Linked DNA regions of Homo sapiens. The protein of the gene in region 2 interacts with the protein of the main gene of each other region in a biochemical or structural test. Each region holds a gene or a part of one and is shown on either strand. Other genes may lie near its edges.

Evidence for each region.
Region 1: the proteins of VDAC1 (region 2) and PRKCE form a complex in vitro, tested with the Homo sapiens proteins (one study listed by BioGRID).
Region 3: the proteins of VDAC1 (region 2) and RTL10 form a complex in vitro, tested with the Homo sapiens proteins (one study listed by IntAct).

Annotation. Positions count from the first base shown.
Region 1 is NC_000002.12:46,183,175-46,186,976, reverse strand, and holds part of PRKCE (protein kinase C epsilon type), read right to left. Parts: intron 2,243-3,802; coding exon 2,096-2,242; 3' UTR 1-2,095.
Region 2 is NC_000005.10:133,987,613-133,991,716, reverse strand, and holds part of VDAC1 (non-selective voltage-gated ion channel VDAC1), read left to right. Parts: intron 1-562; coding exon 563-715; intron 716-809; coding exon 810-862; intron 863-2,473; coding exon of another isoform or gene 2,474-2,582; exon of another isoform or gene 2,583-3,799; intron 3,800-4,104. UniProt on the Homo sapiens protein: Non-selective voltage-gated ion channel that mediates the transport of anions and cations through the mitochondrion outer membrane and plasma membrane.
Region 3 is NC_000022.11:19,845,344-19,848,760, reverse strand, and holds the end of RTL10 (protein Bop), read left to right. Parts: 3' UTR 1-2,615; downstream 2,616-3,417. UniProt on the Homo sapiens protein: Could induce apoptosis in a BH3 domain-dependent manner. The direct interaction network of Bcl-2 family members may play a key role in modulation RTL10/BOP intrinsic apoptotic signaling activity.

The DNA.
Region 1 (3,802 bases), on a different chromosome or scaffold from region 2:
AAATTAATCTCATGTTCTTCATCATTCACTGGTATGCCAAACACATGAATTGATATATCATAATATTTAATATTTGCAATTATCTTAAGAACAGATAATAATTACACCTGAGTTTTTAAAAAATAAAAACAAAAGAGAACTGAATGTCATCATTAGTAACAAAGGCTATGACCAGCCAGATGCAAATATGGACACAGACTCTCTAATGGGCTCAAGATAGTTACTGTCCGAGCTTTGAAACCACCATCAAAAACATTCCTTTCTCTCCCCCATCTCTATCAGGGTATAATAGAGCACAGAAGAACTGTATGTGAGATTTAATATAGCTTAATATATGTTTACATCTTTTAAAATAAACCAAAATGAAATAAACAATACAAAGAATCCCCAACACACCCCCCCATCCCCCATAAAGGAACACACCTATCTCTCGGTAACTTGAACCAATAGACTTACAGAGTATTGCACCTGGACATTATTATAATTATTCTTTCATAGACTAAAGTTTTATAATATGCCTGAACATGCAGCAGTTGATACCTCTATATGCAACGAATTAATTCCACAGGCCTTGCAGCAAACACTATATACAAAAATCTCAAATGTACAAAAGGCAAAAGCTTCATTAGTGCCACTTTGCCACTCACAAGTATATATATTTAGGGGCAGCTGGGAAATCCACGTGCAATAGTTGGAATGGATTCCATTCCCTGCTAAATCAGTTCAGTAAATTAGGTAATCAAATGACCTCTGGGAAACATATACACAAAGCCACAGAGAACCCTTGGAAATGAAAGAATAACACTGTTAGCATATCTACAGGAGGTAATGTCACATCCCTTCAATAGTGTCCACATGAGTTGCCATTGCATGTCACACAGAAACAAAACTGAGTACATCTTGCGACATTGTCAGTTTTCTAACAAGTTGCTCTTCAGTTTCCAGATACCCTTTGTATAACCCATGTTTAGCCTCATTCTGCTTATTCCAAAAGCAGATATTTCGTATATAACTTTACATGTTTAATGTTTAAAAACCACAACACAGTAGTACTACCATTTTGTATAAGTGCGCAAAAATAACACACTGCTGCAGAAAATAAATAGTGTTTATGCTAGGAACTTAGGATGAAACTGGAAAGAGAATCTGGGAGCTGAGCTTTGTTGGAACCCCAGGGTCCTCGCCTTTGTGTCCAGGTAGAACTTGAATGATGAAGAATGCTACTTGTTGCCTTTTCTCTCAATTCATACAGCTCTCATGTGTCACTCGGGCATTGACAGCATCCACCTTGGACGACCGGTTTCTCATTTTTTATTAGCCCTTTAATATCTACCTGTATTCAGACTGGAACTCATCTCTTTTGGCCAATTAGAAAGTGAATTTGAAAATATATTTTTCAAATGTTAACAGAGTTCAAAACCCTGTTTCTTTTTCCACAAAGAGGATTTCTTCCACAAGACACAAACTTACATGACTTTGGCATGCTGAAAAGCTAAAACCAAAGCAGGCAAGAGTTAGCCATTCCAGAGCAAACCAACCCAGCTGGCCAATCCCTGCATCTCTGGTCTCCCTCCCTCAGAGGGCATGCCTCAAGGGCGCCCTCCCTCGTGTGTGCGGAGAAGCACCAGTCTCTTCTCCAGGACAGAAGGGCAGGGATGGCAAGCTGCGGTGCAGGAGGGAAAAGAAGCAAGAGGGATCAGGATCTGTGTCCGATAGCAGAGCCGGAGTCTTCTTGTTTGCTTTCTTTCTTTTTTCTGTTCTTTGCAGTAAAAGAACTGAAGTTGCTTCACTGCCAGGAGCCCCTGAGGAGTGGAACCAGGCTTGCCAATGGTCCAAACACGGCAGTGTATACAGCTAATTGCTGACCCAATGAGTCTGCATTACTGGTGAGACAAGAACCGAGAGCGCCTTCTGGTCACCAGGTGGGAGGGGGAGGAGGTGGCCTGGGGCAAGGGAATGCAATAAATAGACAGTGGACATGGGACTGGGGCTCCGAGGAGGAGAAGTAGTTCAAGACCTGCTGAGTGTCTCCAACACAGGAGTCTTCTCTGCACCCCTTCTTGCAGCATCGGCAAAGTCCAACTGCAGTGGGCTCTCAGGGCATCAGGTCTTCACCAAAGTAGGAGAAACCTTTGAATTCCTCCTGGTTGATCTGCTTTACAATTGCTTCGTCCACAAGGGTGAGTACCGGCTCTTCCCGGGTAAAGTCTTGGTCAAAATTATTGACGTCTCTTTTGGTTTTCTGTGGGAAGAAAAGAGAAAGTGGTGAGTTGAGGCTGCTCTCCCTCCTGAGGGCCCCCCATGGGGAGTGGGCACCGCACTGACCAGCCTGTCACCAAAGCAGGCCTCTAGCTACCAACAGACAGCAGACACGGGGCTGTCCCGATGAGGTAACGATGGATGGCCCCAGGACCCGGAGGTGAGAGACGAGGAGAGGAAGAATGAGTCAAGGTGAGAAGGAAGAAGGGGTGAGAGGGTATGATGGAAAAGCAGGGAAGTGGGATTCCCACAGACGTGTGTGTGTGTGTGTGTGTGTGTGTGTTTGTGTGTGTATGATGCAAAGGTCCCATCTCACACCCTCTTTCAGCAACTGCTGTAACCTACTGGCTCCATTACAACATTCCTCCCTGTGACCCAGGGAACAGATCTGAATCCCCTCTCAGAGGTCCTTCTTCCCCATAACCCGGCCACATCTGCTCCAGGTGACATCCTCTCCACAAGCCTGCCTCGATTTCCACTTACTCTCACCACGAACCCAATTTTGTGCTCCAGTATTTTTTCAATTATTAAACTCAGCACATTGACTTGCAATGACGTTTTTATGCTTTTGTCTAGACCAAGAGCTTCTTAAAGGCAGAGACCTTGTCTTGTTCAACTTTGAGTTCCCAGCAGTTCCCCAGCAATAAGTGTCTACTGAATGAAATAAGTAAACTCACCACTGACTCCCCAGCTCTGAAGGACCCATACCTCTGGGTTGAAGTTCCCAAGGTACAACTGTGTGCCTTATGGTTCTTGGGGGGTGGGGTGGAAGGGAGCAATCAATCAACCCACAAATGAATGCTGGTTTTTGGAGAAAATCAGGAAGTATAAGTAATGCTCTCTGCCTTTAGGGGCTTAGAGTTGAGTTCAAGGGGTCAGTAGTCCTGTGTAGAACACATCGCTTTAGTTAGAAAAATTTCCATGGAGAAGTTGGGATTTGGGCTAAGACTTGAGGAATGGGTGACAACTGTACTGGTAGAAATGGGAGGGAGGCACCTTGGCAGGGAGAAGGATGGAACAAAGGCAGGGAACAGGAAGACAAAAGATGCATACACAGGGCAGCGGGTTCACTAAGCTGCAGGGGCAGAGTGCGGCATGGGGATGGCGGGAGTTAGGGCTGGAGTCCAATGGCAGAGGCCTTCAATAGCAGGTCCCCTCTCCCCCACAGCACAGAGCACAATGCCCAGAAGATTAAAGGCAGGGACTCCAGCAATACTTTTTTCAGACACTGATTAACTGGTATTACCCAGGATTAGTGACTTGGATGATGGAATAAATCTTGTGGAAAGATTCACATTATTATTTGTAGGAGAAATAATATTAATATATGCTATGCTCTGTGGAAACCACTAACCTAAAGAAGTTAATAAGTAGTCCATGAAAAAAGCAGTTTTGACATAAAGCCATGTTTTCTACCCTGCTCTTGGAGATTTGCTATGCACATTGGCAAGTTAGTCTCTGAGAAATTCTAGAGTGAGGAAATCTAGTTTGCTTTGTTTAGGCTAGCCTTCCTCAAACTTGACCTAAAACTTTTTTGTTTTCC
Region 2 (4,104 bases):
TCATTCCATTTTCTGCATGATGGGTGGTCCAGGGGAACCATGCCAGTAGGCCCCCAGTTCAGCAGCGGGTAATAGAGGAGAATGGGTCAGGTCTCAGTTTTAGTTTTCCTTGTGCTTCTTATTTTCAAATTCACCTGCATTCAACCACATAAGTGTTTTTAAAGTAATCTTAGTAGTCCCTTTGAAATTATGTGTGCAGTAATTGTTGGAAGAAAGAAGTTTTGGGTTTGAATTACCGCTGTGTCAGCTTTAGCTCAGTGCTTTTTCTCTGTACTGCCCTGGAGCCAGGATGGAAGGGAGATGCTTTCCTGTCCAGACTGAAGAGTTACAGGGAGGAAGGAAGCTGTCTGCTGACAACAAATTCCCCATAAGATTTCTTTACATAGCAGGCTCCTTTACTCCCATCTGTACTTTAAATATCTATTTGAATTGTAGAGTTAGCCTTGGCCCCCCCACATTCAGGGTCTTGCCTCTTGCAGAAAGGCAAGTATAGTGTTTAGGAGTGAAGTGAAGCCAAGTGAGTGCTATGGTGCAGGCTGTGACTCTTCTCTCTCCTTTGAAGGAATTTACAAGCTCAGGCTCAGCCAACACTGAGACCACCAAAGTGACGGGCAGTCTGGAAACCAAGTACAGATGGACTGAGTACGGCCTGACGTTTACAGAGAAATGGAATACCGACAATACACTAGGCACCGAGATTACTGTGGAAGATCAGGTAATGGCTGCTGTGAAAAGATGTGGATTTATTAATTCGCATCTGCCAGCCTGCCTTGTGACTAAATCTAGTGGCAAATTTCTTTTCTGTTCAGCTTGCACGTGGACTGAAGCTGACCTTCGATTCATCCTTCTCACCTAACACTGGGTAAGAGTTTCATCTGTTTTCTCCACAAGGATGTTCTCTGATGTTGCAGGTGGTGGAAGCCCTTTGTGACAAAATGTTTTGGGGGCTGACAGCACCTAAAATATGGTCTCCGAGACCTGGCGATTTAAGTCCTCTGGTTTTGATTTGGTCCCAGGGGTCGTATCCACATCTATGCACTAACAGACTATGCTATAATGAGCACTTCCTAATTCAGGACTGGTGTTTACCCAACAAACGATTTCTAAGTGCCACCTGTGCTTGGCCCTGTGCCCATCTGGAGATCTAAGGGTGCCCAGGCCATGATTGTTACCCGCCAAGGAGCTCACTTTCTAATAGAGGATTCAGACCAGTGTTTAGCCGTGTTTTGTAATAAGATTCTGCATTTTGTTAGTGTTCTCCTAGTTTCTGCCATGGAGGTTGCAGGATTTCTGTTCAGTAATAGCCATTTCATGTGAGTTAGGCTGCTGGTGATGTAAGTGGCTATGACCAAACGGGAGTGGGTGACATTTGGAAGCAGGGCCTAACTGGTCACTGTTGCCAGCCTCATTTCTTCAGGCATGGAAGTCCTTCTCCCAGCTTCCTGCTGCTTAGGGACACTGAGACCCTGTGGGTGTAACTGCAAGGTGGCTCCTGAGGCTGCACTTTCCCCAGGCCTTCTGGCCACAGATGTAATAGGCTTGTTAGTTCTTGACCATCACTTGGCATGATAGCATGGTAGTCTGCCTCAATTCCTGGGTGCTTTTCAAAGTGCCTAGAAGGAATTATTCCCTTTTAGAATACACCCTTGTTTTTTTCCACTCATATTGGTGGGTCTTCCAAACCTGGGGAAGATGTTTTATATAGTGATGTTAGGGTCAAGGGCATGTACTGAATTTCAGTTTTTAAAAATTGTGGGCCGGGCGTGGTGGCTCACGCCTGTAATCCCAACACTTTGGGAGGCTGAGGCAGGCAAATCACCTGAGGTCGGAAGTTTGAGACCAGCCTGACCAACGTGGAGAAACCCTGTCTCTACTAAACATAAAAATTAGCTGCGCCTGGTGGGCGCATGCCTGTAATCCCAGCTACTTGGGAGGCTGAGGCAGGAGAATCGCTTGAACCTGGGAGGCAGAGGTTGTGGTGAGCCAAGGTGGTGCCATTGCACTGCACCCTGGGCAAGAAGAGCGAAACTCCATCTCAAAAGAAAAAAAAAAAAAAGAGTCGGATGCAGTGACTCATGCCTGTGATCCCAGCACTTTGGGAGGCTGAGGTGGGTGGATTGCTTGAGGTCAGGAGTTTGAGACCAGCCTGGGCAACATGGCAAAACCCCATCTCTAATAAAAATACAAAAATTAGCCAGGCATGATGGTGCGTGCCTGTAGTCCCAGATACTTGGGATGCTGAGGCATGAGAATCGCTTGAACCCAGGAGACAGAGGTTGCAGTGAGCTGAGATCGCACCACTGCACTCCAGCCTGGGCTACAGAGAGAGACTCTGTCTCCAAAAAAAAAAAAAAATTGTGGTAAGATATACATATAAAACTTAACATCTTTAAGTGTGTAGTTAAATGGCACTATGAATTTTTCAGTTTTGCCATTCATTTTTTTTCTTTCTTCCTTTTTTCCTTTCCAACAGATATTTATTAGAGGGAGGATCTACCAAGTGCAGACCTGTGCTGGGTGTGCAGTGCACACAAGTGACTGGGCACACATGGTTCCTATCCTCTGGAGATGTCGTCTTATAGCTTGGCTATAGATGATCTGAAGAGACCATTGTTACGGGGCTGATTTACTCTCATTCCTCTTCGCTGCTGTAGTTTCTCCTGCAAGAGCACTGCCTTTTTGCAGTGCTGTGCACTCTCCCCCCAGGAACTCTGCCATGGTATCAGGGAGCGGTTATCTGGAAAGATCCTGGGATAGGATGAGAGGCTGGAGGATGTGCCCACATGCTTGAATTTGCTGCCTGGGACTTTGCCTGCTGCCCTGGGATAGCACACTTTGGAATTTGTAGGTGATTTCCTTCCCATGACCTTAGGGAGCTTTGCAGAGGTCTCCAGGCCATGCAGTATAAAACACAAAGGAAAGTTTTTTGGTTTTTTTTTTTTTTGGGTTGAGGGGGACGGAGTCTTGCTCTGTCGCCCAGGCTGGAGTGCAGTGGTGTGATCTCAGCTCACTGCAACCTCCTCCTCCCGGGTTCAAGTGATCCTTTTGCCTCAGCCTCCCAAGTAGCTGGGACTACAGACACGGGCCACCATGCCTGGCTAATTTTTGTATTTTTAGTGGAGACGGGGGTTTCACCGTATTGGCCAGGCTGGTCTTGAACTTCTGACCTCGTGATCCACCTGCCTCGGCCTCCCAAAGTGCTGGGCAGATTCATGTGTTTCTCCTGCCTCAGCCTCCCGAGTAGCCGGGATTACAGGAATGCACCACCACACCCAGCTAATTTTGTATTTTTAATAGAGACAGGGTCTCTCCATGTTGGTCAGGCTGGTCTTGAACTCCTGACCTTGGGTGATCTGCCCACCTCAGCCTCCCAAAGTGCCGGGTTTACAGGCGTGAGCCACTGCACCTGCCCCCCTTTTTTTTTTAATTTACTTTTTATTTCAAAATAATTTTATACTTAGAAAAAAATGTGGCAAAAATAGTATGCAGAGTTCTCCTGTGTTCTTCACCCAGCTCCTAATGTTAATGGTTTACGTAACTATAATGATCAGAATCAGCAAGTTAATGTTGATATCATATAGTTAATTAATCTGTTGTCACAATGACGTCTTTTTTCTGATCTGTGATCCAGTTCAGGTTCCTAAATTGCATCTAATTGTTAAGTCTTCTCTAATCTGGAATATTTTCTGACTCTGACACTTTTGAAAAAGAGTGGCCAATTATTTTGTTAAGATGTCCCTCAGTTTGGATTTGTCTGATGCTTCCTTATGATTAAATTTAGGTTATGCATTTTTGGCAACTGTAGTTGTTGTGTTATATTCTTCTCTGCACCTGATGTTAGGAAGAATATATCAGTAGGCCTCATTTTTGGTGATCAGTTTTGAAGTGGTGTCTGCCAACTCTCTTCATTGTAAAGCTACTATTTTTCTCTTTGTAATTAGTAAGTATCTTGTGGGTAGACACTTTGAGATTATGCAGATATTCTATTTCTCATCATACTTTTGCTCAAAAATAGTAACATCCATTGGTGATTCTTGCCTGCAACAGTTACGCTTGGCAAATGGTGACTGGAGTGCAGTGGTGTGATCCTGGCTCACTGCAACC
Region 3 (3,417 bases), on a different chromosome or scaffold from region 2:
CTTGGGACCCAGGCAGCTCCTGGGGGTGTGTGAGTTATGGTCTGCCGTGTGTCTGAGGGCCAGTCATGCAGCATCCACCTAGGCAGGCTTGAGAGTCCTTGGGAGAGTCCAGGTGACCTGGTTTTTAATTAAAACGCGTCCTGTTTATTGTGGTTGGGCTCTGCCCAGAAAGGAAGGTAGGGCCTTGAAGTGGTGATGTCCAGGTTTCCTGCACAGGTAGGGTGGAGGCAACGATGGACTCTGGCATGGCCTTCCAGACAGGCAGTGCACACAGCTCCTTTCAGAGTGGCTTTGTTGCCAGCTGCTGCAGCACCTGCTTTCAGACAGATGATGACCAAGCTGCTTTCCTGCTGGGGGAAGGAGGCATTCCCCCTGGGTTGTTTTTCTCTTCTGGCCCCCACACACTGGCAGACCCGAAGGCAGGGTGCTCAGGAGCTGCAGAGCCTGGCAGGGTTTGCTGGACATGCTCAGGGACGGGCCATGGTGCTGGCTCTGCTTTCTAATCATGGTGTCAGTCCTTCACTTCCCTTGGAAATACCCAGAGATTTTATTTCCTGAAGATAGGACATGATGGGTGCTGTGAGATGGTATTTAAAGTACCTGTCTGCAAGGAAAACTTTAAAATAGGAAGTACTAAGGATAAGGTCCTATGGGATATTGGAATATTTTATAAAGCCACAATAGTTAAAGCACTTAGATGTGGACAGATGAGCAGAGAATAGAGGACTTTGAAACGGGCCAAATAAATATGGAAATTTAGTACAGGCTAGAGGTGTTTCCAATTAACGAGTAAAATGGATTATTCAGTAAAAGCAGTTGGCCCTCTGGAAAATAGTAAAGCCATGTATGTGCCTCACTCTTTATGCCAGTACATATTCCAGATTAAAGATTTCAATGTTACAATTATGAAAGTACTAGAGGAAAATATGGGTGAATTTTTTTTTTTTTTTTTTTTTGCCTATGATTCCAGGATTTTAAAAGTTTTAGATGCCCAGAGTTGTGGAGGTATGGAGAAGTGGACCTTCTCATACTGTTGGTGGGAATACACAATAATATAATTTGACCACGTAACAATTCTAGGCACATGCATGCTGTGACTACTTGCTAGGTGCATGAAGGCTCTTGCCAGGGGTGGTCATGGTTCGGTACCACTACATGGGGGTTTAGAGCAGGGACTGGAGGTTGGCCTTGCCTCCTCCCCTCCCCGCATGAGCTGAGGGTCCTTACCTGACCTTTTTGAGCTGTGACCAGAGTTTTTCCTCATGGGGTGGTTAGAAGGGTTGAATGAGAATGATGCCCATGCAGTGCCTTGGCTGGGGTCTGGGCCCTCTAACACCCACCTCATGGGTGTCACTGTTTTTTGAACAGCAGAACTGGAAAAGCCCAAAGATCCAGCAATAAAGGAGCAAGGCAAATAAAGCTGTTACCCTGCAGGATCAGTCAGCATGAGCCAGATTGTGCTGCAGTAACAAAGATCTCCAACAGCGCAGCGGCTACAGTTGGCACTGCTTATTTCTTGCTTGCACCTGTGGGCCACCGTGGCTGGGGCCTGTCAGACCTGTGCTGACGACAGCCTACCTGGACATATTTCTCCATGCTCACTGAGGCAGGGGAAAGGCCACAGCAGGCCACAAGTAATGTGTGTCACCCCACTTCCATTTCTGTGGCCAAAGGAAGCCACAGAGCCACACCTGAGTTCCATAGGACGGCAGCAGCTGATCATCCTATGGGCTGGGGTGCTCAGTATGGAGAAGTACAAGCAGCCACCCAGCGTGGGGCTGGTTGGTGCTGCTGAGGATGGGAGGATGGGAGGGGCCTGCATCCATCCCAGGGCAACATACCTGTTTGTCTGCTGGGGCTGCCTGACAAAGGACCGCAGGCTAGGGGACTTAAACAACAGACATTTCCTCATGATTCTGGAGCTAGAAGCCTGAGATCAAGGTGTGGGCAGGGTTGGTTTCTCCTGAGGCCTCGCTCCTTGGCCTGCAGATAGCCATCTTCTTGCCGTGTCCCTGTCTGTGTCTGTGTCCTAATCTCTCATAAGCTCACTAGTCTATTGGATCAGGGCCCACCCTCATGACCTCATTTAACCCTGAATTACCTCTTTAAAGACCCTGTCTTCAAATGTAAGTACTAGGGGTTAGGACTTGAACATAAAAATATTGAAGGGACATAGTTCTGCCCACAGCGGTGCCCGCGATAGGCTTCTCTGGTTTTGTCTTTGCTGTTCCTGGCAGCGCTATATTGGGCAGGCTTCTGTGGTCTCCACATGCCTGTGTGCAGAGTCCCCCAGGCCCTGGGTTCTGGGGCCCATACTGAGGAGTGGGGATGGCCAAGCCTTGGCTGTTGAGTAGGCAGTGCCCAGTTGTGCTGTATGGGATGCTGTTTCTCACTTAAGAAATCTTTCCCTACCTGGGGGGTACAAAGGCATTATCCTGTATTCCCAGGTTGTAACTTTCTGCCTTTGACATTCAACCTTGAGTCCACCTGTAAGTGTAACTGCGGCAGAAGGGAGGGGTCTGCTGTCATCCTTGATAGCCTGTGATGAGCAGAGCCCCTCTGCCGACCGCGATGCACATGTAATATGAGCAAGAAATAAATTTTTGATGTGCGAAGCCACTGAGTTTGGGGCTTGTGTTTTCCACAGCATAACCTATTATGTCCTGACCAACAGGGGATCCCATTTCACCTTTTTCCATAGGGCCTACCTCAGCATCAGCTGCTGGCTGCAGCAACTCACAGTCTGGCTGCAGCCACCCGTGAGCCATGCCTGGCCTACCCGCCTGCTCTCTGGTCTGATCTGTCCCTTACTAGTTATTCTAGCTTTTAAGTCTTGCTTATGTCATAGGGAAACCATCCATGTCCCCATTTTTCAAGTTGTCTTTGCAAGTTTTAAAACACATTGGATCACAAATGCAGAGGCAGCGAGGATGGTGTCATGGCCCTTGCCCAGCCCCAGCAGTGTTCACACTCTCCTGGTGCAGGCCTCGGGGGTGCCTTGTCGCTGGACAGCCTGGCCAAGCCTGCTCTCCAGGACAGCAGGGCCCGTTGCTCCCTTAGTTTTTCTTTGGGCTACATCATCTCTATTACAGGGACACGGTGGGTAGGGGCTGGCCAAGGAAGAGCCCAGGCCTGTGGGGTGTTCTCATTGGCCGGCTCCTTTCCTCCTGGCCTCAGGAACCACCCCCAGCACAGGGCTGGGGCCTGTGGATGATGGGTGCTCATGCACTTGCCACATTCTTCTGTGTCCCCATTGGTGGGGCTGCCAGCTGGGTGCACAGGACATCTGACTCCCCTGCCCCCTGCTGTGCCTGCGCTGCCCACCTCACCTCTGTGTCTGAGCACTGCAGGGGACTGGGGAGTGTTTGTGGGTTGTGGAGCCAGGGCTCTTTATTCACAGGCTGTGCATAGGGGGGG